Homo sapiens: one gene and its partners. The protein of the gene in region 4 interacts with the protein of the main gene of each other region in a biochemical or structural test. Each region holds a gene or a part of one and is shown on either strand. Other genes may lie near its edges. The genes, in order: ITGB1, ITGAV, ITGB5 and SPP1.

Evidence for each region.
Region 1: the proteins of SPP1 (region 4) and ITGB1 form a complex in vitro, tested with the Homo sapiens proteins (one study listed by BioGRID).
Region 2: the proteins of SPP1 (region 4) and ITGAV form a complex in vitro, tested with the Homo sapiens proteins (one study listed by BioGRID).
Region 3: the proteins of SPP1 (region 4) and ITGB5 form a complex in vitro, tested with the Homo sapiens proteins (one study listed by BioGRID).

What each region holds. Positions count from the first base shown.
Region 1 is NC_000010.11:32,948,210-32,955,235, forward strand, and holds part of ITGB1 (integrin beta-1 isoform 1A precursor), read right to left. Parts: intron 1-7,026.
Region 2 is NC_000002.12:186,586,051-186,593,069, forward strand, and holds the start of ITGAV (integrin alpha-V isoform 1 preproprotein), read left to right. Parts: upstream 1-4,005; 5' UTR 4,006-4,288; coding exon 4,289-4,473; intron 4,474-7,019.
Region 3 is NC_000003.12:124,877,361-124,884,386, reverse strand, and holds part of ITGB5 (integrin beta-5 isoform a precursor), read left to right. Parts: intron 1-2,526; exon of another isoform or gene 2,527-2,544; intron 2,545-5,697; exon of another isoform or gene 5,698-5,784; intron 5,785-7,026.
Region 4 is NC_000004.12:87,970,748-87,978,713, forward strand, and holds the start of SPP1 (osteopontin isoform OPN-a precursor), read left to right. Parts: upstream 1-4,966; 5' UTR 4,967-5,053; intron 5,054-6,134; 5' UTR 6,135-6,148; coding exon 6,149-6,202; intron 6,203-6,311; coding exon 6,312-6,350; intron 6,351-6,914; exon of another isoform or gene 6,915-6,971; coding exon of another isoform or gene 6,972-7,103; intron 7,104-7,966. UniProt on the Homo sapiens protein: Major non-collagenous bone protein that binds tightly to hydroxyapatite. Appears to form an integral part of the mineralized matrix. Probably important to cell-matrix interaction.

The DNA of each region.
Region 1 (7,026 bases), on a different chromosome or scaffold from region 4:
ATCCAAGTAGAATTCTATTTAATGTGCTTTCTAACAATCAGATTCCTGACAAATGTGTTCATAAAGTAATAAAAGCAGCAAAACCTTAAATATTTTATACTGACAAAATATTTAAGGTAGTAAATGTTAGACAAAATACAAATGCTCTGAACACTAATATCATAAAAACATAGTAGACAAAATACAAATGCTCTGAACACTGATATCACAGAAACCCTTAAAAAAAGATTGAGGGGAGGGAATAACATACCTAATACAAACAGAAATAAGGAGGAAGCTTTGAGGTTTGCTATGCTTTGAACGTGTCCCCAAGGTTCACGTGTTGGAAACTTAATCCCCAAAGCAACAGTGATGAGAGGTGGGACTTTTAAGAGGTGATAAGGTCATGAGGGCTCTGCCCACATGAATGGATTAATGCTATTACCACAGGAGTGGAGAATGGGTTCCAGATAAAAGACGGAGTTTGGCCTCCTTCTCTTCTCTCACTCTCTTGCCCTTCCACCTTCTACCATGGGATGATGCAACAGAAAGACATTAGATGCCAACCCCTTGATAATGGACTTCCCAGCCCCCAGAACCCTGACATAAATTACCCAGTCTGTGGCATTCTGTTATAGCAGCACAAAGACTAAGACAAGGTTCTTACATCACAAGGAAGCAAACCCCCCTGAAAGGACTAGAATACCAATTCTGTGTTTTATTAATCAAACCCAACTAGCAATATGATTTCGTTCAGGGACTGCTGCTCACTGTGGATTACTGAAAAAAAAAAAAAGACTGACTTCTCAATTGAGAGGGCCAGACTAGGCACAGGCAAGAAGAAGAGTATAATACACTAAGTTTTGATGATTTAAAGTAATTTGTAACAAAAAGTTATTTCATTTAGAACTTTAAAAAATTAGAATTTTATTTCAGCACCTTCAAATGGATATGATAATAATAATGATAAAATAATAGCATCTATCTCCTCCAGGTAACTCAATGAGGTGAAGAATAATAGTGTCTTTGTTTTACAGATGAGGAAACAAAACCAGAGAGACTAAACAACTTGCAATGGTGGAATCAAAAGTTGCACAGGTGGAATTGAAACCTGACCATCTGTATCCAGAAGCTATGACCTGACTTCATTAAACTGTAATTTTTTCAAAGCCTACTTAATCACTATTTTAAAACAAAGAACATCCTTCTAGTGTTAGAACTGACTCAGGGCACAGAAATGGAAAGGGCTTATAATGTTCTATGAGTTTATTTCTTGGGCATTTGAACTTAATAGAGGCCAAGAAAAGTTATTTTAATTGCCATATTTCATAAGTACAGACAAAGGTTTTGTGTCTTGTTCCTATAAAAGCATTTCACCTTAAGGTCATTTTTTACCATATGAAATTTTATCTAAGGGGTCATAATTCATTCCCTGAACAATAAACAATCTTAAACACCACCCACAAATAATCTCATTTTAGTGGTTAACCCAAATATGTGCAATTGTTTCCACTGTCAAAAATAGTGCATAATTGTTTTAATCTTCACTGTAAACTAATCTTTATCCATAAAAGTATGGTTTTATATCATGTTCAAACTTTTAAATACACACTCATTATTTATTAATTTTTTTAAACAATTTTACAAATAATTCATTTGGCATTTCCTTTTAAATTTACAATCTTTAGAAACTTTATATGGACTATCTTTGTAGAAATTAAACAACTACACTTTAGAAAAAAATTGTAACATATGTAACATATGTAACATGTTATGTTCATTTCAGAGTTGAAAAATAAGCCACCTAAAAGCCAACTCAAATAAAAAGAATACACAAAAGATTTCACAAAATCTCAAATCTTTTCACCTTAATAGTAGAAAAGATTCTGATACCTATAGAGGTATATCATAAATGTCTCCTAAAAATTATAATAAACTTGGATTCATCCCAAGTCTGTTCTACCATCATTATTTTCTGTATCTGCTTTTAAAAGGGGAAGAAATAGGCCAATAACAGATTTTAGTATTTAAAAATCAATATATTCCAGAAGAAGAACACAGAGCCAAATTGAAAGACATGAGGTTCCTCCCACTTATCCCACATAGAGAGTAATAAAAACGAGAAAAACATGAATGGAAGAAACTGAGAAATCTTTCTGAATTCTGTACCATCTGAGAGGGTGACATGTGGAGATGAGTTCCTCCCATGGAAAGGGAACCTTTCCCCTTACAGGAAGAACAATTAAAACTCAACACTTTTTTTCCTTCCATCTGGCAGGAAGAGGTGTGTTGGTCACTACAGAGGTGTTTATGGCCCAAATATTAATAAGCTAGCATTAATGATTAACAAAACTTCGCAGAAAGAATAGAGAAGAAAAAAAAGGAGACATGAAAGAGAAGAGGCTAAGGGATCCCAAAGATGTAACACCACATTTGAAGTCCTCTTCTCCTCTCCTTGACAAACAGAAAAGTAGTCTGAATTAGAAAACCATCTAAAATTCACCACTCCCACCCAGAAGAAAAATGGCTTTTTAAAGAGCACTAACCCCTTCTCACACAATGATAATGATAGCCTGGGCTAAGAAGCTCTAACAACAAAGGTTTGGCTGCTCCAAAGCTATAGGTTCACAAAACAATTTGAAATCTGAGAACAGCTCACAACACGGCGAGATACTTTAAGAAAATTATACAACAGATTGAAGATAAAATTCATCACTAGTGACTCTACCCGCCTTCTCCAGGAAAATGAAATATGGAAGATTTTTATCACCACCCAATCTACAAGTGCAAGGGAAAGATAAATAATGGATATAGTACGCATTGGCAAACAAAATGCCTAAAGATAATACGTTGGGGGTAGGGGGAGGTAAAGCCTGGAAACTTAACACCTAGGAAAGACTTCCACAGAACAAAAAGTGAAAGGAAGTCAGTGAAGAATCTTCTTTAAAAATAAGAGAAAATCTAGATCTCATTCTGCTCTTCAAGAAAGTCAGAAAATCTCAAATAGATCTTGACAGTGATCAAAGAGCAAAACCACAAAAGTCGAGGAAAAGTAAACAGAACTAAGGAAGAAAATTTAGGCTGGAATCCTCTACAGAACTCATAGACACCAAGAACAGAATCAACATAACAGGAAAATCACACAAAATTCAAATAATTCAAGCCAATGAGAAACGTTGTCTAATGGTGATCTCATAAACAGACAACTGGTACAGCACCACCACCACCACCAGCCCCTCCCTGTCCTGAAAAAAAAATAGCTTTATGTGAGAAACGGGAAAAAAATGAAGCATTTAATTCAAATGGGGGTAAAGGGGCACAAAATTAACTCAAGACTTCAGAGGATGAACGTAAAAGCAGAAAAATACACTATAAACAAAGCTATTAAGCCATAATATGAAGGGCTGATCCAAAATGAGCAAAAAACCTGCCCGAACTTAATTCTTCCCAGCTCCTCCTTCCACTCAAAAGGTAAGACATTATTACCTAGCAATTGATTGTTTTTCAAACCAGCCTAGTATGCTGTTCCTTCTTTCCACTCTCTATGCCTGCGGACTTTTTTGCCTTTCCCTGTGAGGAGGAAAGAAGTTGGGAACGGTTTTGGTTGAGAAAGTTTACTTTGGGGCAAGTTGTCAAAGATAATTGTGAGTGGAGCCAGCAAAAGAACCAGCATGATCAACGGTATCAATAAGCACCTGAGAGCAAGACTTATTCCCCGTAATTTCAATTAAGGAGAATTATCTTCTCAAACTGCGTAATTATATCCACTTTTTAAGCAGATCATTCCAAAATGCTTCCTTGATTAAAACTAATTTTGACCACATCTTTTGTCACATCTTCCTCTCCATCCTGTCTGTGGTGGAGTGCATACAGTATTTTAAATACATGATAAATGTTTTAAAACCATGATAAACATAGGAAAAAAAGTTTCTCATTTTACACATCAGTAAGCTGTAAACAGTATCTAATTGTTGGAAAGATAAAATATGATCATTATATGAAAGCTCTTATCAGCAAATATATTTCTAGGTGGTCAGCAGCTCATAATTTACATGATTACCAAATTTGCTTCTTGTTCTCCAACTCATTAATCATGGCCTTCTAAAACAAGAACCTCAGTGACTCTTTAATAAATGTTTCTCAATCTTTTTAATCCATGCTTCTTTAATAAGCATAAATCTTACTCCCTATTGTACTTTTTTGTAACATTTTTCTAACATAACATTATACTACCAAATGTGCTTTTTCAAACTCCAATTTCCTCCTCCAATAAACATGACCCTGTACCACCCCTTTAAAAGAAGCACTGAAATCATAATATGAAGAAAATCATACATAAACCATAAAATATTGTACATGGAGAAGAATAATCTATTGCTAATTTCATAGATTACGAAAGCTTAAGTTATTTACATATTCATTCAATAAACATTTATACAGAAAAATGTGACTTCCATACTCCAAATGGTACATACCTAATTTCGTATGTAAATATTTTCCTCATCACTCCACTGAAACTATACTCCCTACACAAAATAGAATGCTGATTTTTCTTCTTCCTTTCTGTCTTTATTGCCTCTTCATCTCCTCACCAACCACAATCAACTTAATTAACTACTCCTTCTCTGTGGTTCCAAAACAGCTTTGATAGTGCCCAGCAGAGTGAATGACAAATCTTCAGTGATGCTTAATAATATAGTGTTATTTCTATTCAAACTTCTATTGTAACTAATTGTATTCATGTCTGTGTCTCTCATCAGGCTAGTATTGGAGGGCAAGAACCCAGGCCTTCATTTTATATAGCCTTCACATATCCTTCTGATATATATGATATTATACATAACTCCTAATAGGTAACAAAGTGGCCAGGTACTATCTGTGAAATTAGATTGGATTCTTCCCATGCTGTCCTTGAATGTGACAACCATCTGTCATCCAACCTTCGCTCATACCATTCCAAGCTCAGGCCTCATCTCCTACACAACGTGTTCCAAAACCACACAAGCCAATGCTGAGATTTTTCTAACATTGTTAGGGAATATTACATGGTACAGTATTTTATGGTACAGTACATTGTATAAAACACTCTTTGGTATTTATGTTTTCCTGAACTGAACACAACTTGTTCCAATTAGACAACAGACTCAACATCAAAGAGCATGCCAACTTCTTGATTCATGTCCACTGAGTAAAGCATTTTTCAGGTAACTGGTACTCAATGTACTGATAGAATAAAATGTAATGTACAGCCAAGCTACATCCTGATGCAGAGCTGACAGGGACAGATGTTGCTGGTCAGCGCTGGCAGGTATCCTTAACAGAGTAAGTGGCACAGTGCCTACACTCTCTGGTGATACAAAAAAAAAAAAAGTTGCTCATGGAGAGAGAACTGCACTCTACTTACATCAGGCAGCAGCTATCCTCCAACTCCTCGAACGAGAGAATGAGAGAAACATGCAGGCTGCTTTATAGGGTAGATGTGGAAACCAACGCTCTGGAAGTACAGTACTCTGACAAAGGTCACACAGAAATTCAGTGGCAGACCCGGCACTGACACCCAGGTTTCCTGTCTCCCAATCGAGAAGCCTTTAGTACATCAAACTGCTTCTCTGATCAGGTATCTGAAAATAAATTACCACAAAGAAATGTGACCAATGAAGTCTTTCTGTCTTTAACTCAAACATGCCAATCACTGGAAAAACCCAGAAATACCTATGTCACTCACAAAAATGCCACTCAAAGGAATTAGAAGTTCAGAGAAGAAACTGGGGAAGGTAAATGCTTTTCTAGATTCCTCTTCCTCCACCCCCCCTTGACTATTAAAAGTGTTCCCAGGTCCTCCTTCAGCCCGTTTTTCACTCCACACCCTCCTTTGGTGTTTGCATGCACAGCCTATAGCTTCAACCAGCAATAGACTAAGAATTGTCAAATTGAAATCTCTCAGAGTTTTTTCTTTTTTTAAGCTCTCAATCTGTGTATTCAACTGCAATTTAGACATCTCCACCTATGTCCCATGGTCACCTTAAAAAAAAAAACTTGGCCTCATAAGGTCATCATTTCCCCTCTGCTCCAGCCAACCAGCACCCCCAGCTTGTGGTCACCCTCTCACCTCAGTGAACAGCACCTCCTAGCCAGAAACCAGTGTCACACTGGGTTTCTTTTATTTCTCTTATCAAGTCTTATCAGTTCTCCCTCCCAAATACAGTAGTTCTTGAACCCCACTCAAATCATCCTCCATATAGGGATCTGCAAAGCTTTCTGACCACTCACCTTTATCAGCAAAAAAATTCTAGGCATACCTGTACCCAAAATAAATGCAATTTATAAATTCAGATACATGTACTTCTACAGCAATATAGTAAGATTATCAATCATAATCAAAATTTTAAATTTTAAAGTGATGAGATCAACAAACATAATAGTAGACCTAAAATTTTCTCCCTATACTTCAGTGAGTCTTTTTATGCATCCCTGGAGATAGGAACCTGTGCTTTGAAATTATGTACAATGAGATTGGTCCTATAAGAAATACATACATATATGTGCTTGTGTGTATGTGTGTATATACATATGTATGTGTACTGGAGGCAGCTTTTCTCATGCACACACACGTTTCATGAGGTGATATGCACACGCTTAAGCATATTGCTAAATATAGTTAACTCTACCTTCTAAAGTCACAAACCAAACGGCAAGTTTAAAGTTAGCTGACCTCTAAAAACTCACAGCCACTTTTAAAACAATAACAAATGTACAAAGTATAGTTTGGATCCTTTTGTACACAGCTCCTGAAAGAGAGAAACTTTTTTTTTCACCTACCGACAGACATATTGGAAGGCTGCTAATATTCTGACTTTTACGGACTGTACCCCCTTTAAGCTGGGTACATACCATAATATCTTTTCAGTTTTCCACAGCTATAGATACCTCTAGCATAACACTTCAGGATTCAGAAGACGAATGTACCTTTCTGTATCTTAACGTCTCTACTCCATACCTCCCACCTCTGAAAAAATAACCAGCCAAACTCTCAGAACCTAAAACCAA
Region 2 (7,019 bases), on a different chromosome or scaffold from region 4:
TAGTGGGTTAAAGTCTCCAGAGAAATTGAGAGTAGAAGAAGCAGATTTCTGAAGTTCCCATGGGTTATTAACTGAATCTCCTTTGAGGTTCTTTGAGAGAGATAAAATTTGAAATTCCTCTTAAATTATGGACTAAGTTCCTTTGTTTGCAGAGACAGAGCTGCGTGAAGCCCTGGTTTGATTATGGTTATTGAAGGACCTGTTGGACAGACACTAGGGGAACTAAGAGAGTGAAATAATAGTCATAAAAATTTACGGCAGGAGAATTGCTTGAACCCAGGACGCGGAGGTTGCAGTGAGCTGACATGGCGCCACTGCACTCCAGCCTGGTGACAGAGTGACACTTTGTTTCAAAAAAAAAAATTTATTATTGCTACCATGCTAAACTATTAGTCTTAAAAGTATTAATGGCAACAAGAACTGTTCAATTCTAAGAGATAGACATAGTATTACTCCCCTTTCCCTTTCATAGATAAGAAAACTGAGGCACAGATTGGTTGGATTGATTTCCCCAGGGTCATACAACTAGTAGTTGGCAAAGCCAGGAATGGAACCCAGGTGCTTTATTTTACAGAAACCACTGGAATCAAGATTTTTACTAAAGTATAGGGTAGTAGAGGATAAAATTCAAAGTACAAATTCTTTTTACTATCTAATATTTTATTTTCTAAGAAAAGGATTATATTCAATGAATACTTAATGTATACACAGAAGTTCTCCTTTTAAGTTGGAAAACTGTTATAATGTAGTTCAAAGAGTAGTGTCATGGGGGTAGGGGAGGGGCACCACCATTCTTTCGTAGACTAAAACATTCTTTTCTCTGTCCCATGCACATAGTACCAGGTGCAATGTGGATTTTGAATCAGCACTAGCTGAATTGACATGTTCTACAATACAATTTGCAAGGCACTGTGTGAGTGGCTGCTCGAGCATGGTCACACAAAGAGATGCCTGCATTTATAACCCCAAGTTTCTAAAGCCACTGGGTTAGTCTGCTTCATAGTTTCCTAATTGAAATGTATGTTTGCTTTTTTTTGTTGTTAGACAGTCTCGCTCTGTCACCCAGGCTGGAGCACAGTGGCCCACAATACCACAATATCTCGGCTCACTGTAGCCTCTGCCTTCCGGGTTCAAGCAATTCTCCTGCCTCAGTCTCCTGAGTAGCTGAGATTACAGGCACACACCACCATGCCTGGCTACTGTTTTTTCTTTTTTGAGATGGAGTCTCATTCTGTCATCCAGGCTGAAGTGCAGTGGCACGATCTTGGCTCACTGAAACCTCTGCTTCCCAGGTTCAAGTGATTCTCCTGCCTCAGCCTCCCAAGTAGCTGGGATTACAGGTGCCTGCCACTGCACCCAGCTAATTTTTGTATTTTTAGTAGAGATAGGCTTTCACCATCTTGGCCAGGCTGGTCTTGAACTCCTGACATCGTGATCCACCCACTTTGGACTCCCAAAGTGCTGGGATTACAGGTGTGAGTGAGCCACTGCGCCCGGCCAATTTTTGTATTTTTAGTAGAGACGGGGTTTCACTGTGTTGGCCAGGCTGGTCTTGAACTCCTGACCTCAGGTGATCCACCCACCTCGGCCTCCCAAAATGCTGGGATTACAGGCATGAGCCACAGTGCCTGGACTATTTGCTTTTTTAAAAAAAACAAATTCCTTGATTTTCAAGACTGCTCATTCAAAATAAACTCATAAAGAATGGCTCAACAGTAAGTGCTTTCAGTAAGTTGTAGCCCTATTTGGGGGTGTGTTGTTCACCCAAGTTTTGGTGGGTGTACATGTGTTGTCATTTCGTGGGCTTCTTCTTTTCCCTGGTCCTCTCACATTTCTTCACTCCACCTTGGTCTGTCGGACCCCTGTCCTGCGATCAGAAGTTGAGGAGTGGGAGACTTACTGGATCTAGCCAGAGTTTAAACTCTTCTGTCTTCCTTACCTGGATGGATTTCCAGGTAGACTGGTTGTCATGTTTTTAAGATATAAAAGACCCTTTGGGTTTATGCATACATATCAATAGCCTCTTTGGTGTATTAGGAAAGAAGGTGAGAAATAAGCTGTATTTGCATTTATGTGTAAGGATTTGTGTAGGATTTCTTCTCTCAATCAGTAATTTCTTTCAGGCAGATGCTAGACCATGCCTTGTAAAACATGCCAAAGGTTTTGCTGCATATCTTTTAGTCAAATTTAAAAATGGAAATATTTAATGCATTTTTTTTTTGAGATGGAGTCTCACTCTGTGGCCCAGGCTGGAGTGCAGTGGCACCATCTCAGCTTACTGCAGCCTCCGCCTTCCGGGTTCAAGCAATTCTCCTGCCTCAGCCTCCTGAGTAGCTGGGACTGCAGGCGCATGCCGCCACGCCCGGCTAATTTTTTGTATTTTAGTAGAGACGGGATTTCACTGTGTTGCCCAGGCTGGTCTCGAACTCCCGAGCTCAGGCAATTTGCCGGCCTCAGCCTCCCAAAGTGCTAGGACTACAGGCATGAGCCACCTCGCCCGGCCTTTTTTTTTTTTAAACACAGGGTCTTGTTCTGTCACTCAGGCTGGAGTGCAGTGGCAGGCTCATGACTTATCATAACCTGGAACTCCTGAGCCTAAGCGATCTATCTACCTGCCTTAGCCTCCGGCATAGCTGGGACTACAGGCATGCACCACACTCCCAGCTAATTTTTAAATTTTTGTAGAGATGAGGTCTCCCTATGTTCCCCTGGAACTCCCGGTCTCAAGCAATCCTCCTGCCTCAGTCTCCCAAAGTGCTGAGATTGCCAGCATGAGCACCTGGACCTGGTCCAATAAATATTACAAATTCGAATTAGGCATTTCACTTTCATTTATATACATATCCTTTCACAGGATTATTTGATAGTTATTAATGTATATTATGATTGAGTTTTAATAGTTACTTTGGGAAAACAGAAATTACTGTTCCAGTACTTACTTGTAAGTTGTAAGTCCACACAATGCACTTAAACTTCACCTTGTTCAACAGATTCTGTAGCACATGAAACACTTGAAATATGGAAGAGTCACTTCTCTGGGCACTTTGCTCATTTCGTCTGCTATTCATTCACTGATTGGACATTTTATTGATCGACTACTATCTGCTTGGCAAGGTGCTAGAAATAAGAACACTAAGAAAAAGGTCAAGGTTCCTGTCCTCAAGGCCCTCTCTCTCAGTCCAGTGTTGTCAAGGCTTGATGAAACACACCAGTGGCAAACAAGCACGCGGGGCCTTATTTCACCGGTGTGCGGTCCTTCTTCCAGCTCTGAAATTATGTCTATCCAAACATCCTAAATCAACAAATCAGTGTTTCTAAATCATACAACCGCAGCTAACAAACTGGGAATAAGGCTTCGATTATTCTGACTTGATTTAAAACGATCACTGCCAATTCTTTGCCCTGCGAATCCTTTCTTTGACTACTAAGTTAAGCTTTACATACCTCACTTGCAAGAGGCTATGCTGGCTTTCTGGAAATCCGTAATTAAGTTCAGTGTTTGTGGAATGGAGTGTAATTAACGACCATTAATTAACAGGGTTTCGTTCGTGAGAGCCTGCCAGGCTAAGCAGCAGAAACACGAGAAACTGATAAAAAGCTTTCCTCATTTTTAAACAACAGTCGCACGGAAGTTCCCGGCGGGACAAGGGAACGTGGGTGCCCTTGCTACTCCCGTGGACGCGGGTAGATTGGGACGCTGGACCGTATCTCCCCGCCCCCGCCCCCACGCCTCCTCAGGTGCTCAGCCTGAGGCCTTCGTCCAGGAGCGCTGCCGCTGACCCAGGCTCAGGAGCTGGGGGCCCCTGCACAGACGCCCAGGTCTCGGGACAGGCGGCGACTGCACTCACGGAAGTACGCTGAGCTCTCCCCTGTAGAAGGGCGCCTCTCCTCCCCCACTTCCTCCTCCAGCTCCACAGCAGCCTCCCGGGCCGGCTCCTCCTCCTTCCAGGTCTCCTCCCAGTGCCGCCGCGGCTCTCAGGCCTGAGGTGCGGCGCTCACCCCGGCAGTCCCCAGCCTCAGACGCTGCGTGGAGCGGCGGAGCCGGAGGGAAGCAAAGGACCGTCTGCGCTGCTGTCCCCGCCCCGCGCGCTCTGCGCCCCTCGTCCCTGGCGGTCGCTCCGAAGCTCAGCCCTCTTGCCTGCCCCGGAGCTGTCCCGGGCTAGCCGAGAAGAGAGCGGCCGGCAAGTTTGGGCGCGCGCAGGCGGCGGGCCGCGGGCACTGGGCGCCTCGCTGGGGCGGGGGGAGGTGGCTACCGCTCCCGGCTTGGCGTCCCGCGCGCACTTCGGCGATGGCTTTTCCGCCGCGGCGACGGCTGCGCCTCGGTCCCCGCGGCCTCCCGCTTCTTCTCTCGGGACTCCTGCTACCTCTGTGCCGCGCCTTCAACCTAGACGTGGACAGTCCTGCCGAGTACTCTGGCCCCGAGGGAAGTTACTTCGGCTTCGCCGTGGATTTCTTCGTGCCCAGCGCGTCTTCGTAAGTGGCCGCACTTGGAACTGGAGCCGGCCCCCTCCCCCACCGCGCGCACCCACCCAGCGTTTCTCCATTGGGATTGATTTCCGAGAGATCCCGGCGTCTGTCTGTCTCACCCATCCTACCTCTCAGAGTGGTTTATATCCTGGGTGGAGGAAATATTTGGGGAAATGAACTCCCTTTGGTACCCATCACCCAGTTACACCCCGCTTCTCACCTCTTAAAATTGGTTAGGGGCAGCGGGAGAGCTTTGAAGCAGACCTGTGCTTAAAAATCGGGGAAAGTGGGAAATCAACAAAGGCTGGTCTTGCCGGACTCCCCGCCTCCTGTGCCAGTGTCGAGGATTTGGTCAATATCATCCCCGAACTTCTTTTTCTCCTCTACCAGTTAGGCTTCTTGGTAGCCTTTTTCTGCTTTACAGGCTTAACGCCCGTCCTTTTCAGTCTCCCTAAACAAGCCCTCCCCCACTCTTTCCGCCTCTGTCTGATTCTGTTTCTCCTTACTCCTTTTGCAGACATTCTGATGACTTAAAATGACCATACTGTCCTATTGAATTCATTGTGTCTTATCTCTGGGACTGTCAGACATTTGCACATTTGAGGTTGAACAGATGAATTGAATGTGTCATCTGTTCTTTTTATAGTGATTCACTATTTAGGTCATTGTTCAGAAGGAACAAGGGTGTTTGCTGAGTTTTCACTCGCTGCAGGTCATTTGAATACTGCAGTATTTAATAATTCAGTTATGTTTTCAAGTTGCCAACGTTCCGCGTTGCAAGGGCCGTCAGGATTTATAACAGTTATTGCCATTATTGTGTTAGAAATTGTCTCCGACTTTACTGAATGCTGACATCATTCTCACCACCCCACCCCCATGTTAGCGTTAGGAGTACTGTTTTAATGAATGTTGACTGTTTTTTTAATGATGTTTAAATCTTGTTTTCAAGAGAGAAACTGTTCTTAGGGTGCCTTCTAAACGCTTAGACCTTGTAACAACATATTTTTGTTTCCATATTTTCTGTATAAGATATCCCTTCGGGGTGAAGTGGAGGAAAATTTTGACGGTTAGTACGTGGATAGGACCATCTTCTACTACACACATGCCTAATTTGAGGGTGGTCTCAATGGTTTTCTATGACTGTTAGGACACTCAGCAGAATTTAGTCTTAGTGTTTTTCTGAATGTTACTGAGTATCATTCATTTTGGTAACAACCTTTGCAGCAATACATAGATTAGATGCAGTTAATGGAAACTTTGTTAGTGGAGACATTATTTTATGTAGCAAGCTTAGTTTTATTTGTTGTTAGCAGTTACAGTGCTTTCTGTGAGACCTGGAGCACAGATTTTCCAACATGATAAAAATAATCATTATTTAGGCAACATTTACCAATTTCACATTCCATTTAGTCATTTTAGTCAGCATTATCTTTTTATTTATTGTTTTTAACCACAGGGGTGAATACCAAACGTTATCTTTAAACATTTTTGTTTCCAGATACTTTCAAGTGTATACCTTCATGAGACAGAACATTTTAGTTGCTCCCAAGGGTTCAATGTGAGATATAATTTGTAGAGAAATTCTAATGATTTTGAAAATATATGTCTTCAGTCAAAAATTAGCATTTAAATACTTCAGGCCAGGCACAGTGGCTCACACCTGTAATCCCAGCACCTTGGGAGGCCAAGATGGGCAGATTGTCTGAGCTCAGGAATTTGAGACCAACCTGGGCAACATGGTGAAACCCTGTCACTACAAAAAAATACAAAAATTAACCGGGCATGGTGGTGCACACCTGTAATCCTCGCTCTGCGGGAGGCTGAGATGAGAGGATTGCTTGGAAAGTTGAGGTTGCAGTGAATGGAGATTGTGCCACCACACTGTGGCCTGGGCGATAGAGAGAGACTGTCTCAGAAACAAAAACAAAATCAAAAACAACAAACAATAACAACAACAAAATAAAGTTGATGGCAGTGTTTTACAATGTTACTGTTAATTCTTCAGCAGTGCTCTGAGTTTAGTGTAAGATAAATGAGAGGCTGATAAACTTTAAGTGTTTTTTTTTTTTCCATGAAAAATGCAGTGATGTTGAACTCTTCATGATATTTGCTACTGCTGATTACAAACCAGGGTGACTAATCTTTGGCCAGTCATTATAATCAATGAATGTGTTATGACCTCACAGGTTTACATGACTTCACTCATAGACCTTTAATGATAAAGTAAAATTGAACTTGGGTTTGGTTGCATATAATATTTTGAAATATTCATCAGCAACTTTGTTACCGATAGACTACAGAGCTCTAGGTATAGGTAACTTAAAAAATGGAAACCAACCTTGAATTTTTTTCTTTTTTCTTTTTAAACAAAACGTATATAAACACAGGTTTTTACTTACTGAGCTTTTCAGATTTAACAAAAATTTATGTAAAATTTTGCTGAATTTTCTAGAAGGGCACTTTAAATTTAACAAGCATTGGAATCCAAGGTACTTGGGATGCCATTTCCAATATTACCAGTTGGATTTATTGTTATTTGGTATTACCATAAA
Region 3 (7,026 bases), on a different chromosome or scaffold from region 4:
GTGGTGGTGGTGGAGCAAGCCATGGCACTGGCCTCCAGAACTTGCTGCTTACCTCTTAGGGCCCTGAAGCTTCTCAGGATTAGCAGAGGTTGACTCACATCTGTGTCATTTCTCCTAGTTTTTCAGTGTTGCTGAATTAACTTCAACATTCTTTTTTTTTTTCTTTTTTTTTTTTGCTTCCCTTCCCTTCTTTGTTTTCTTGAAGCACTACAGGTACTTTATTCAGGGAGTGTTTCTGTCTTGCCACTAGGAACATTATTTGAAAGAAAAAAACCTAGTTACTCAGAGAAAAGAAAGAGATGACCCTCAGGGCCATGCCTGCCTGGGTGTTCCTGGACCAGTGGTTGAGTGCCTCTCTCTGTTGCTCTAACCCCACTTTCATCTCAGTACGGATTTCCAGCAGGAAACTGACCTTAGGTTTCAGGGGCTCATTTCAAACAAGTCCCTGGCCGGCTGACAACCCCCTCCCGTCCCCACCAAGGGCTATCTCCTGCTCTTTTTATTATCTTATGGCCAAGAGCCTTCAGACAGAATCCTAGGATGTGGTCTTCCCACAAAACCAGGGGTCTCACTGAGGTGAGGCTTTTCCACGCTGCCTTTGCTAAGACAGAGAGAGGAACACCGTCTTATAAAGAGGATCCTGCAACACCGCTGGAATTATGTGTGCTATCACATTCATTTCTTTTTAAAAAAGCAATCGAATGTTCTTCTAGTGAATGCTCTGCACATCCTAAGAAAGCCCTTTGTTTTATTTAGTGGACTCATGTTGGCAGCACCCTTCCTCTACCCCCAACCCCCTACCACATTTCCTGTGGTCTGTGATGGGGTTGTTGGAATTTGGCTGGGTCTGCAGCTCTCTGTAGGTAACCAGGCACAGGTTTAGAGCTGACAGGACAATGAAATACAAACAGTGGGTTTGGTCTGTAGACTGCTGTTTATCCTATGGATTTACATTTTAACTCCATCATCCTTGAGTTGGGGGAGCTTTTTATAAAGGGGATTGAGGCAGAAGAGGGCAGGGTCTAATTAGCTCTAATTAGTATTCCCCGCCTGCTTGTTCTCCATGCTTATTTAGCTACTGAGGCAACGGGGAATTAAAATATCTAAGTAGTTTGGCAAAAGGCCTTTTGTGCCTGCGTGGCCTGGTAACTACTTTTTCTTATTCAGCCTGGCCATGGAAATATTCTGAGATGCTTTAACGATATCAGTAATGTGGGACAATTACAAACTACTTAAATAATAGGGCCCCTTTCACATGGCAGTGTGCAGCTGGGTTAATGGGATAGGGTCTCTTTTCACAGGTATTTCCAGTTGGCTGGAGCCGAGGGCCTTGGAGAACTGACTGCCGTGGTTTGTTTTCCTTCTTTCCGGTTCGAATGGGATTAATGGCCTCTATAAATGTAAAGGAATGCTTTATTTAGAGGCACCCATTTGTTTCTGAGGCTTCTTGCTTCCGTTGAATGCAGGGTTTACTTCCCGGGCCTCATGGTGAAAAGTTTGCTCTAAGACAGGCTTGACTCATCCCCTAAGGCTGATGCTTTGAAGGCACTGCGGGGTACCCTGCCCTCTCTTTATAGGATTCCCTCCCCAACTCCAGCCAGACATTTTCAGAGCTGGTTGTCTCTTGTAGAGCTGGGACCTACTTCTGCAACTTGTTCTCTTTAGTTATTCTCAACTGTCCCTCAGAGTGATCCTGAGATCCAACTCAAGTCAGATCATATCTCTCTGCTTAAAACCTTCGAATGGTTTCCCAGAGTCCTGCCAGGCTCCACGAACTCTCCACCTACTTCTCTGACTTTCCTTCACCACTTTCCCTTCGATCCTTTGCTCCAGCAGCATGGGCCTCCCACTGTCCCTTCAGCGTGCCAGCCATGCTCCCATGGCAGCCCTTCTCCCTGCCTGGAATACTGTCCTCCAAGATATCTGCATGACCGGCTTCCTCCACCCTGCAACCCTTTTTCTAGCATCTCCTGCTCAGCCAAGTTTTCCCTGGCCGCTCCCAGCTAAAGCTGCAACCTCCTCCCTATATCCCGAGTTCTTTTTATCTGCTTTTCTTCTTTAATTTTTGTCCTTAGCACTCACCACCATCTAATGTAACTACATATCTTCTTCACTATTTCCCCTAAGTAGAATTCTCCCCCAGCCAGGATGTGAGCTCCGTGAATAAGGGAGTCTTGTTGGTTTTATTCATCTCTGTATCCTCCATGCCTACAACAGCACCAGGCACATATTTGTTGAATGAATAATGGATGAACCTGAATCTTGGTAATTGGGAGGTGAAGAGGGCGATGCATCCCGTCCTCAACTCCCTGTTGCCTTCCACAGCTAGCTTTGAAGTCAGGGACTATGCATGCGGCTTGTTAGGAAGAAACATCCTGGGAGAAAGAGATTCTGTTGGAATGTGTCAGGATTTTTTTTTTAATTGGAGTCTCACTCTGTTGCCCAGGCTGGAGTGCAGTGGTGCAATCTCTGGTCACCGCAACCTCTGCCTCCCAGGTTCAAGCGATTCTCCTGCCTCAGCCTCCCGAGTAGCTGGGATTACAGGCGTACACCACCGCACCTGGCTTATTTTTTAATTTTTAGTAGAGATGGGGTTTCACCATGTTGGCCAGGCTGGTCTTGAACTCCTGACCTCAGGTGATCTGCCCACCTTGGCCTCCCAAAGTGCTGGGATTACAGGCATGAGCCACCACTCCTGGCTTTGTGTTAGGATTTTTTGAGCTGGTATGGAGGCCATTTGGTCTACTCCCTGAGTTGTTTGCATGAGGAAGCTGAGGCCTGGAAAGGTTAAGTGACTTGCCCTAGGTCACATAACCAATAAGTGACAGAACAAGTCCTCTGATCTTTTATACCCAGTATATCCTGTTCTCCTTCCCTACATCCCTGGGTGGAGCAGAACTATCTCCTCCTCCTCCTGCTTTCATGGCCCATTCCATTAGAGAGACTGGGGGCTGCAGCTGGTCTGTCTCACCTGCTACCTGGTTAATAGCCCTGGTCTTATTTACCTGTGTCCCTGACACAGCCACAATGCTTGGTACTCAGATGATCCCTTCTCTCACCCCAGGATTTTAATGGGCTTAGAAAAACTTTATTTAAAAGATTTGGCCAGGCAGGGTGGCTCACACCTATCATCCCAGCACTTTGGGAGGCCGAGGCAGGCAGATTACCTGAGGTCAGGAGTTCGAGACCACCCTGGCCAACATGGCAAAATCCAGTCTCTACTAAAAATACAAAAATTAGCCAGGCATGGTGGTGTGCACCTGTAATCCCAGCTACTCAGGAGGCTGAGGCAGGAGGATCGCTTGAACTTTGGAGGCCGAGGTTGCAGTGAGCTGAGATCACACCACCGTACTCTAGCCTGGGAGACAGAGACTCTGTCTCAAACAAACAAACAAACAAACAAACTTTTACATATGTACTTTTTCTTTTCTTTTTCCCTTTCTTTTTTATTTTATTTTGAGATGGAGTCTCACTCTGTTGCCCAGGCTGGAGTACAGTGGTGTGATCTTGACTCACTGCAACCTCTGCCTCCTAGGTTCAAGCCATTCTCATGCCTCAGCCTTCCAAGTAGCTGGGATCACAGGCACGTGCCACCATGCCTGGCTAATTTTTTGTATTTTTAGTAAAGATAGGGTTTCACGATGTAGGCCAGGTTGGTCTTGAACTCCTGACCTCAGGTGATCTGCCTGCCTCAGCCTCCCAGAGTGTTGGGATTACAGGCATGAGCCACTGTGCCCGGTGTCTCTTTTATTTATTTATTTATTTTTTAAAAAAAGACAGAATCTCGCTCTGTCACCCAAGTTGGAGTGCATTAGCGTGATCATGGCCCACTGTAGCTTGAACTCCTGGGCTCAACTGCTCCTCCCACCTGGTCCTTGCAAATTGTTGGGATCACAGAAGTGAGCCAGTGTGCCTGGCCCTTAAAAAAGCCTTCAAAGAATTTAGAGCAGTTTTAGATTTCCAGAAAAATTGAGAAGATAGTGCAAAGAGTTCCCATCTACCTCACACCCAGTTTTGCCTATTATTAACATCTTACATTAGTATGGTACCTTTATTATAATTAATGAACCATATTGATATGTTATTATTAACTAAAGTCCATCAGTTTAGATTTCTTTAGTGTTTACCTAAGTCCTTTTTCTGTTCTAGGATCCCATCCAAGATACCACAATACATTGAGTTGTCATGTCACCTTGGGTTCCCATGGCTGTGACAGTTTCTCAGTCTTTTCCTTGTTTTTTATGACCTTGACAGTTTTAAGAAGCACTGGTCAGATATTTTGTAGATCATCCCCCTCTTGGGATTTTCTGATTTTTTCCCGTGATTAGACAGAGTTAGGTGATTTTGGAAGAAGAACATAGAGGTAATCAATTGCCTCTTTAAAAAAATACCTTTTGATAGGTAATATAGTCCCATAATTTTTAAAAGTATAACTCATATCAAGCGAGAAGCCTCTCTTTCTTGTTGCCCATCAGTGTGGGATATTTCTGTGACCCCCTTTTCTAAATAAATTGTGCCTATATAGTTCCTATTATAAAGCTAATAAGCTTTCTTATGTATCCTGAGGGTTTCTATGGATATGTTACGAATATCCCTCTTTCATTTTTATTCAGAGGCAGCACAAAACACAGTATGTATCTTGCTTTTTATTTTTAACTTAGCGATGTATTGGGGTAAGCTTCCTGTCAATACAGAGAGCATGCTCATTCTTTCTTTATAGCTGTCTAGCACTCCATTATATGAATTGGTGTTTTAAAAATAGAAGTCAGATCTGTAAGGCTGGTATTGTTGAGTGTTGTGCAGATGTCTGATGTTCATAAAGGCAGTCTTGAATGAGAACTGCTGGGATAGAACCTTCCTAGGGCATATTTGCATTTCATGGTAACATTTAGACATATGGCTATTTAGTTGCTGGAGTCTATACTGGGACTCTTTTGTCCATTGTGTGACAAATGTGAGGGCCTGGTTCAGGGTGTGGGGAGAAGCATTCCAGGGCATTGCCATCTTCAAGGCAGAAAGGCCATTTCAGCTTCTGTATTCACTTCTGTTATCCTACTGAATATTTTGGATCAGGAAATTCCAACTGCAGATGTATGTTTTAGTAGTAGTTGTCTGACCTTGGACCCATGGGGTGTACAGAAGTGGAGAGAGGCTGAATGGAAGGAGGCCAGCCAGGAGGCTATGGCAGGAATTTAGACCAGAGGGCCTGGCTTGGGTTGTTGGGGCTAGAGGTTGCAGACAGGAAGGGTTGGCTTAGGATAAACATTTCTTGCATCTTGAAAGGAGTGATCAACCGGATGCGGTGGCTCCTTGAATGATTGATGAAACACAGGGGTGAGTCAGTGAATTTTGGAAGAACATATTTTTAGATTACAGTTTGCAGTAAACACTGGGCTTCAGAGACGTGAGGCAAAAGAGATACATGGAGTTGCCACCGAGCTGGGAATAGTCACTATGCAAACAGCAAAGAAGATGAGATGTGGCTATCATCTGGGCTGCTAGTTCCTGTTTCCATGACCTAGACCTAACACTGACATTTGTGAACTCCGTGTGTTTAGTTTTTTATTCATTGCTTCCTTCCTTTTCAAAATGCTTATTGGTGCCAAATGACTCATCCAGCAAAGTCCAAACTCTGAAATATTAATAGGTGGAGAGAGGAGAGATGCCAAAGGGAGTGAGTCTGACATTACACATACCAGCACACAGCCTGTGGTTTTGGATCCTGGAGTACCTGTCTGGTACCTGGTACCCGGCACACTGTGAGTTCCTGGACATCAAGGGCTGGTAGGTCATTCACCTGTGCATTTCTAGCATCCCCCCAGTCCAGTGCTCAGCGTTTAGGGTGTGTTAAGTGCAGAGTTTCTTGAATTTGAATGTGTCCCAACAGCAACTGAATTTTAGGGCAATCATTTTGAGTACAAACGACTTTACTTTTCCATGTGAATATTTAATAATAACAGAAACAGTTAGTAATGCTATATGACAAATTGTTTTACAGTTGTTCATGATGTTTTCATACCAGGTGACTATCACATCCTTTGAGTTTCTTTGGTATTGTGTCCAATTAAGTAAGGGCTTTTAGGCTGGTGGACCAGAAGACCAGAGCTCAGTCTGATCTGCATCAGAATTGAGGAGCTCTTATTGTCCTGAGCCCTGGACCTCCAGCCCAAGTTCCCAGAGCTCATGATGAGGCTCTGGTAATTATAAAGTGTTGTTTGCAAATGTATGTGGCTTTGAAGCTGGATACGGTGGCTCACGTCTATAATCCCAGCACTTTGGGAGGCTGAAGTGGGCAGATCACTTGAAGTCAGGAGTCGAAGTCAGAAGACCAGCCTGTCCAACATGCTGAAACCCTATCTCTATTAAAAATACAAAAATTAGCCAGGCGTGATGGCATATGCCTGTAATCTCAGCTATTCAGGAGGCTGAGGCAGGAGAATCACTTGAACTTGGGAAGCAAGGTTGCAGTGAGCCAAGATCATGCCCCTGCAGTCCAGCTTGGGCAACAAAGCAAGACTCTGTCTAAAAAAAAAAATTATGTGGCTTTGATCAGAGTCCTACGTGAGGCCTTTGACCTCAAATTCCTTTCTGATAAAGGGGCTGTTACAGATCTCCAGAGGACCCTAGAGCTCAGCAGGTCACACCAGCCCTACATCCAAGATGGCAGAGGGACCACCAGGCAGGTATCCCATGTGGGCACTTGCTGGTCAGGACCCCGTCTGACCTCTTTTTTGTAGATAGGGCTCCTTGTTTCAAGTCACATACTCTCATTATCTTACATTTTCATCTATAAAAAGAGGCAACTTGACTAGCTCATCTTAAAACAATCCTAGCCCCAAGGTGCTATAATCTCATGATTTTATGAAAATGATTTTATATATCAAAGAAAAGGATATGCCACAACGAGCCTGAGTTTGTATTTGATAAGGTTGAGGAGAGGAGGAGCAAAGTTACTTTCATTCTAGATTTATTTTTTTTCCCCTGCAGATAGTGATTGCTGACAGGTACGGGGATTTGACCAAAAAA
Region 4 (7,966 bases):
GCCAGACCCCAGAGGACCTCATGTTATGTAAGAAATAGCAATCACCTGGGCAGTCCTTTTTAGGCACAGGAAGCATGCCTGAAGTTCTCAGGTGTAATTCACTCAAGCGGAACACTATCTATATTGGAATCTGAAGACGTTTAATTCAGGAGGCCGGGAGCGGTGGTTGATGCCTGTAATCCCAGCACTTTGGGAGGCTGAGGTGGGCCAATCACTCAAGGCCAGGAGTTTGAGACCACCCTGGCCAACATGATAAAATTTCATCTCTACTAAAAAAAAAAAAAAAAAAAAATTAGCTGGGCATGGTGGTGCATGCCTGTAATCCCAGCTACTTGGAAGGCTGAGGCACAAGAATCGCTTGAACCCAGGAGGCAGAGGTTGCAGTGAGCCGAGATCGTGCCACTGCACTTCAGCCTGGGTGACAGAGTGAGACACTGTCTCAAAAATAAATAAATATGTTTAATCTGGGGCTTTATGAAGGCAACAGAAAATAATCAGCAAGAATAACTCAATTTATGTAAGAACTATATACATGTCATAATTGAGCTAAATTTCTTCACTGAATAAATATTTTTGGCACATAATCTGCAGAGGGATTAGCATATCATGGAACTTACACTCTATGAGGAATTCAAACATTAAAGAAGAAATCAAATTTTAATATAGAATATTTTAAATTACAGGTTTAAGAAACATAAATGTTATGCTATGGGATAGGGGCATTAATGTAAACTATGCCTTGACAAGAATTGTCGAAACAAAAAACCTTAGCCAAGTGTAACCAGAAAAATATCTGACTGAGCTGCTTTTGTTGTCTAGTTTTACTCCCCTTTCTTTTGATTTTGTTTTCTCTTTTGCACTGAAATTGTCACCTTTTCATATCAACCTTATGATAGATTCTCTACCAAAAATTACTCAAACATCAGATTTTAAGCAAGAATTCTCATAAACCAATTTCGGAGAATGATTTTCTCCCCTCAAATATATCTGCAAAATGACTGTCACTGACCGCTTATTGCCACAAAATGTCTTTTTCTGAACAAACAAGGTCCTCCTGCAGCTGCTAGACTTTCTATTTGTGCTTTTCCACCTTGTTCTATCTCCCTCTTTGGATCCTCTCTGATTACAGCCTCCTCTATTGTTCCCCAGGTTGTTATAGGTCTCGAGTTTATGCTGCTGTGGTTGATGTTGAGTGGGAAGGGGGACTTTCTGTTTGGATCCAATCCCAGAATACCCATCCCTTCAACTCCAATGTGGACACAGGGTCTCTACCATATACCTTCTCTACCCAGGGTGCTGCCAAGTTTACTGTTTAGCCACACCCCCTTAATCTCATTGGTTACTCAAGTTTCAAATTTCCTAGTTGATTTTCATGAACAAATGGGCTCCATGAGGGTAAGAATGGTGTCATTTAAGAAAAAAAAGTTAGTAATTTAAGTCTACCTTAAAAAAGTCTATCATTTAAAGAGCATTAGAATGTCCTCAGAGTTACTAATACTACTTTAATGAAGAAATAAATGCTAGATTCTTGAGTACAGGCAGATATTAGATATCAATATATGAGATATACTCTGAATTCAAGCATAGTGCCTATGCATTGTATTCATAAGCAAAAACTATAAGGTCAGAATTCGTGTCATAGATGCAGGGCTGAGTGGGCAATCACCAACAATTTATTGAGCACTTACTCCATAACAGTTCTATGTGTCTAAAGGAAAACTTTTTTTTATTTGTTTTAAATTGAAACTAATGTTTACCAATGGTACGACCACTTTGTCAGGAGCTGACTTTTGTTGTCTAAGCTATTGAGCAATGGAATAAAAGAGTTTATGGTGTTTTTGTTTTTTTTTTTTTGTATTTCTGAAATGCTCTAATTTCATGTCTGAACTTGAAAATAGCACCCTCTTATCATCCACCTTTGCTTGCTACCCTGTGATAAATAATGCCCCTTTTCCCAGTCTATATATGATGAATGGTGCTAGGCTTCCGATTAGCTTTAATTCCAAACTTCTTTATGACAGATTAGTGGTGTTACCAAAATATCAGAGTCATGTCTGAACCTTGACTCAAGGGAAAAAAATAATTACCTGTGGAGCTGAAAACACTGAAATAGTTGGTTACACTTTACTAAGTAAAATATAATTAGAAATGTTCAAATAAACTGGAAGTGAGTTTAATAAAGTTGTCCACCAAAGTAGTGACATTGAACACTTACTTTTTATTATATGGGAATTTTCATGTAATTCAGGAAAAAGACCTTAAGGCTCTTTATTTGTTTCCATGTGTCCTCTTAGTGTGTATAATTTAAGATCACAAATTACTCTTTGCATTCTAGTTTGACAACTAAACTTTTTTTACTTTCCACTCACAAGATTTATAGGGAATTTGTGCATTTTGACCTTTTGATTCTAACAACCAATCATTAGCCAATCAAGAATGGAAACTTTGGAAATATTACAGATAGAGCCACTGTGATTTAAATCATTTAACATGTTAATTCTGACAGAAAATCCTACTCAGAAAAAACAACCAGCAGCAGCATGTTTGAGTGCAAACAGCAAGAAACATCCCAAAACATGACCTCCCCGATAGTCAGAATGACGCAGCATCCATTTCCTACTTTACAGAATTGCCTCCCATTATAAATCACTTTATCTTCTCAACTCCAAAGCATCCCAGACACATTCTTTACCCGTGAATTCACAAGCCTTTTCTCTGAGAGAGGCCTTGGGACTAGGAACTTTTTGAATGAGTGTAGAAGTCGGGAAGGAGACAATAGTGTCAACTTGGGATTGCCTAAGGCAACAACAGAGCAAAACAAGAACGCTTTGGTTCTCTGGGTCTCTGTCCCTGATTGCATAGCGGGTCATTGTTGGGAAATATTTCCTCACCTGGCATTCCAAGAAATGGAGAGCTCCACAGCTGTATATAGTCCTGTCATTAAATACAGGAGTGTTCTATCCCGCTGGAATTAAGAAAATTGGTAGAACCAGATTGTGGTCTGAAATCTTTTTTCAGAAATGCTGCCATCGTGTGGCACTGCGGAGCTATGACCAGAAGAGTCCTGTAAAGGGTCGTATGGTTCATCTCAAGATGGCTGGGCTCCAGCATAATCTATTCCTATAATTAATTCTAGCTTCATATTGAATCATTCCCGTGGGCACAGAGTAAACTACAGTAAATCCTGTGGAAATTTTGTTGTTTTTAGAATTTTCAGACTTCCCTCCACTAAATTGACAACATGACACGCTTATGCGGGTATGTTTAAAGGAAAAAAATAGTTTTTAGAAGCAGAAAAAAGAAGTCTATTTTGCAACTTTATAATCTGTGTGCTTTCTATTTTATAGAGATAGTCGTCATCTTACTTATTAAAATGGGTGCTTATTACCTACAAACCAATCATATCAATTCATCTGGAATACATCCAATTTAAGGGAGACATATTTCCCCCTACCAAATGTTCATGAAACCTATGAATTAGCTATACACTATCACTGCAAGACATTATTTAATCTATATTTATATTAAAAGTAATATTTGGCAAAAGGAAGCTGACACTTTAGGACTAATAAAAACCACAATTACTTTTGCAGCAACCTAATAATAAATAGGACCATTTATTTTTCATCTCAATTACACACAAGTCTTAACAATAAAGGTGTAAGGTAAATAAATAGTGCAATCTGCATTTCACAACTGAGAAAGCAAATGAAGATAAGTAATCTCAAGGCAATATTAAATATTTTAAAAGGACCCAGAGCTCTGCTATCCCTGAATTCTGCTCTAATATTCGGACTTTCCCTGTAATTTTCTTTCATTCAGACACCTTTTAAATACCTAGTAAAGTGTTTTTTAATACAGAAATTTTTAAAAATGTTTTTCTTTTTAAGTGGCCTACTTTACATACCTTGGGAGAAAAACTAGAAAAAAAGATGATTCCAAAATCGAATCTGTTCCTTTAGAAATGTGCAAAATTTCCTTATTGATGCATACAATTTAAAGATCTTACGTCTACTCTCATTTTAATAACCTGTTCTTTTAAAGGACATTACAATTCGTGACTGCCTGCCCCTCTTAAAAATTTCATAATAGTTAACACACATATAGTCCTTAAGATACGCAGAGCATTTGCATCTAATATGTGCTAAGCATTGCTAGTTTAACATACTAATTCATTTAAACCCCTCAAAAACCCCATGACCTAGGTAATAGTATTGCATTTCATGGATGAGGGAACAAGGATAGGTAGGCTGGGCGATTTGCCCAAGGTTGCACAGGTCAGCAGTGACACAGCGGAATTCAGAACCACGGTCTGGCTCCTGAAGCAGCCCTCTCAAGCAGTCATCCTGCTCTCAGTCAGAAACTGCTTTACTTCTGCAACATCTAGAATAAATTACCATTCTTCTATTTCATATAGAATTTTATATTTTAATGTCACTAGTGCCATTTGTCTAAGTAACAAGCTACTGCATACTCGAAATCACAAAGCTAAGCTTGAGTAGTAAAGGACAGAGGCAAGTTTTCTGAACTCCTTGCAGGCTTGAACAATAGCCTTCTGGCTCTTCAATAAGTACAATCATACAGGCAAGAGTGGTTGCAGATATTACCTTTATGTTACTTAAACCGAAAGAAACAAAAATCCATTCTATTTAATTTTACATTAATGTTTTTCCCTACTTTCTCCCTTTTTCATGGGATCCCTAAGTGCTCTTCCTGGATGCTGAATGCCCATCCCGTAAATGAAAAAGCTAGTTAATGATATTGTACATAAGTAATGTTTTAACTGTAGATTGTGTGTGTGCGTTTTTGTTTTTTTTTGTTTTAACCACAAAACCAGAGGGGGAAGTGTGGGAGCAGGTGGGCTGGGCAGTGGCAGAAAACCTCATGACACAATCTCTCCGCCTCCCTGTGTTGGTGGAGGATGTCTGCAGCAGCATTTAAATTCTGGGAGGGCTTGGTTGTCAGCAGCAGCAGGAGGAGGCAGAGCACAGCATCGTCGGGACCAGACTCGTCTCAGGCCAGTTGCAGCCTTCTCAGCCAAACGCCGACCAAGGTACAGCTTCAGTTTGCTACTGGGTTGTGCATTCAGCTGAATTTCATGGGGAAGTCCAAATTCTAAGGAAAAATATTTTTAATTGTAATGCTGTTAAACAGACTTAAATTTTCTAGCCTTTTTAATAAGCAGATTAGATACATTGCAGGTCTCCTGGAACAAAGGTGTCTAGATATTTTGAATGCCAATCAAATTTAAAACTTAAAAATACTTCCACTGGGTCCTCAAAAGAACGGAAACCACCGATGCTAATCAGAAAATAGTAAAATTAAATTCCCCTTTGGAATAATTATACCTATATAATTTTCAGTGGGTGACTGTGCAGGAATTTAAAAGAAAAGGGATCTTTTATGCTAATTAAACCAATTACAATGCTATTTTTTAAATGATGTATCTCACTTTTAAGGGGAAGAAAACCCTTTCTGAATATGCCACTGCTAAATTTAGCTGTTAAAATATTCACCAAGATACCTGTATGACACTGTGTAGGCTTATTATTACAAATAGAAAAGCTGTTGGCTATTTTCAATGTTTTCCTTTGAATTTCAAATTTTTAGAACATCTTACTTAAATAACAAATTTCAGAGATAGTTTGATTTCACCTAAGTAGCACCTACTTGATAATTAAGCTAAAAGTCACATTTAAAGTACATGTTGGAAAAATGGATAAAGCAAATTTTTTTCATTTTTTTCTGTGAGTTTTTTCTTCTCTAAAAAATATTCCCATACTAGCTTATTAATATAATTAAGTTACTGTTGATCTGTTTGTAGGTTTAGAGAGCTAGATATATAAGGTAGTAATGGTATAATTTCTGGAACTCTAAATTTTAAAGTTGAATAAATACAGACTTGCAAAATTTCCCTTTCCCTTGCCTAATAGTGAAAGATGGATAATAGGTGGCAATATAAATATTAACTTGAAAGACTATAATACTAAAAAGAAAAGGCATCTCTAAGAAGTAGAAAAGATTCTATAGAAAATATATTTTATTTGTGATCATTTTGTAATGTGGTAGTATAAAAAGGTATCACTGTTGTAACCTATGAAGATGTCAGCTATTCCTTATGAAATATTTTGCAGGAAAACTCACTACCATGAGAATTGCAGTGATTTGCTTTTGCCTCCTAGGCATCACCTGTGCCATACCAGTGAGTACAGTTGCATCTTAAAGAAAATTCCTGAAAATAACTGAATTGTGTGCTTCCATGTGCTAGGAGGACATTCTTGTAATCTTTCTTCATCTTTTCTGTTTCTAAGGTTAAACAGGCTGATTCTGGAAGTTCTGAGGAAAAGCAGGTAAGCATCTTTTATGTTTTTATATAGTTAAATCATTTACTCAATTATGGCGAGAGGTGCAAGAAACGTATTTGCTGCGATATTACTTATCTTCTCAGTCAAATCCATTGGTTTACAAGTATTGATTGACTGCCTGCTATGAATCTAGGCCAGTACCAAGCACAGTATAGTTTTTAATAAATATAAGTTTATAAAACCAACCCAGATATTTTAAATATAATAATATCTAGGCATGTATGATGAGTTATCGCATGTAAGATAAGTTATATGAAGTTGTGTGACTTTTTTTCCATTAGTCCACATACTGATCTAAAAGCAGAAAATTCCAGCTTTTGCTTTGTTTAGTGGATTGCTAAGTTTAAAATTCACATTGGATATTAGTCAGAACTGTTTGTATGACCATAATATTCACAATATTGTCTGAGATATTAGCTGAGAAGCCCATTGTGAAAAGAAAGTCTATGTGTGCTGTTTGTATCTATTGTGATTGTCAGCTGATGTTAGATCACATTTTCTAACCAAACATAAGACCAACCAAACTCTTTATTATAATTATTTGACCAGCACTAAAGATGTACCTACCCCTCCACAACAGATGAAACTGTGCCAGCCAAACAACAAATGGGCATTGTCCCCAGAAGCTTGGACAAAAAGGCACACAGAGTTCAATTCCAGTTGAACAGAATAAAGGCCAAAATAGAGCTGCCTTGGGGGTCACTGCAATTAGACTGCTTAATGAAGACATTAAAAGAAGTATTCTGTGTTCGTTTGTGTGTGGAGGGGTGTGTGTGTCTGTTTTTCAACTGATTTGAAAATACAGGTGTTGAATCCTAATAATAAACCAGAAAAATTAACATCTCCAGAGAAGATAGAGGTCATACTATTTGAGGCAAGAATTAGCGTCTTTTTAATAAACGAAAATATGGCAAAGATGCATTTTAGAAGGCACGTGGAGCTATAACAATTTAAGAAATACGTGAAGAGCTCAAGGCTCAGCCTTCTAGAATCCCAGAAACTTAAAGCTAGTAAAAAATTGGGGAAGTCTCTAAGGATATATGCCTGAAAATACACACTGGTTATCTGTGAGTGTTAGGATTACTGGGTGGTTTTTAGTCTATTCATTTTGCTTACCTTTATTTTCTTCATATTAGTTTTTAAAAATTATAAATGTAACTTATACATCCATTCTCTCTGAGCCTGTATTACATGTGTCATGAGAATAGATAGATAGATATGAAAAAGTGAAGAGAAAAACTCTGAACTCATCTGGTCTCACTGTTTTTCCGCCTTCTTTTTTTTTTTTTTTTTTTTTTTTTGAGACGGAGTCTCGCTCCGTCGCCCAGGCTGGAGTGCAGTGGTGTGATCTCGGCTCACTGCAAGCTCCGCCTCCCAGGTTCACCCCATTCTCCTGAGTAGCTGGGACTACAGGCGCCCGCCACCACGCCCGGATAATTTTTTGTATTTTTAGTAGAGACGGGGTTTCACCGTGTTAGCCAGGATGGTCTCCATCTCCTGACCTCGTGATCCACCCTCCTTGGCCTCCCAAAGTGCTGGGATTACAGGCGTGAGCCACTGCGCCCGGCTGTTTTTTCATCTTCTTAAAGCAAGGAACCCCT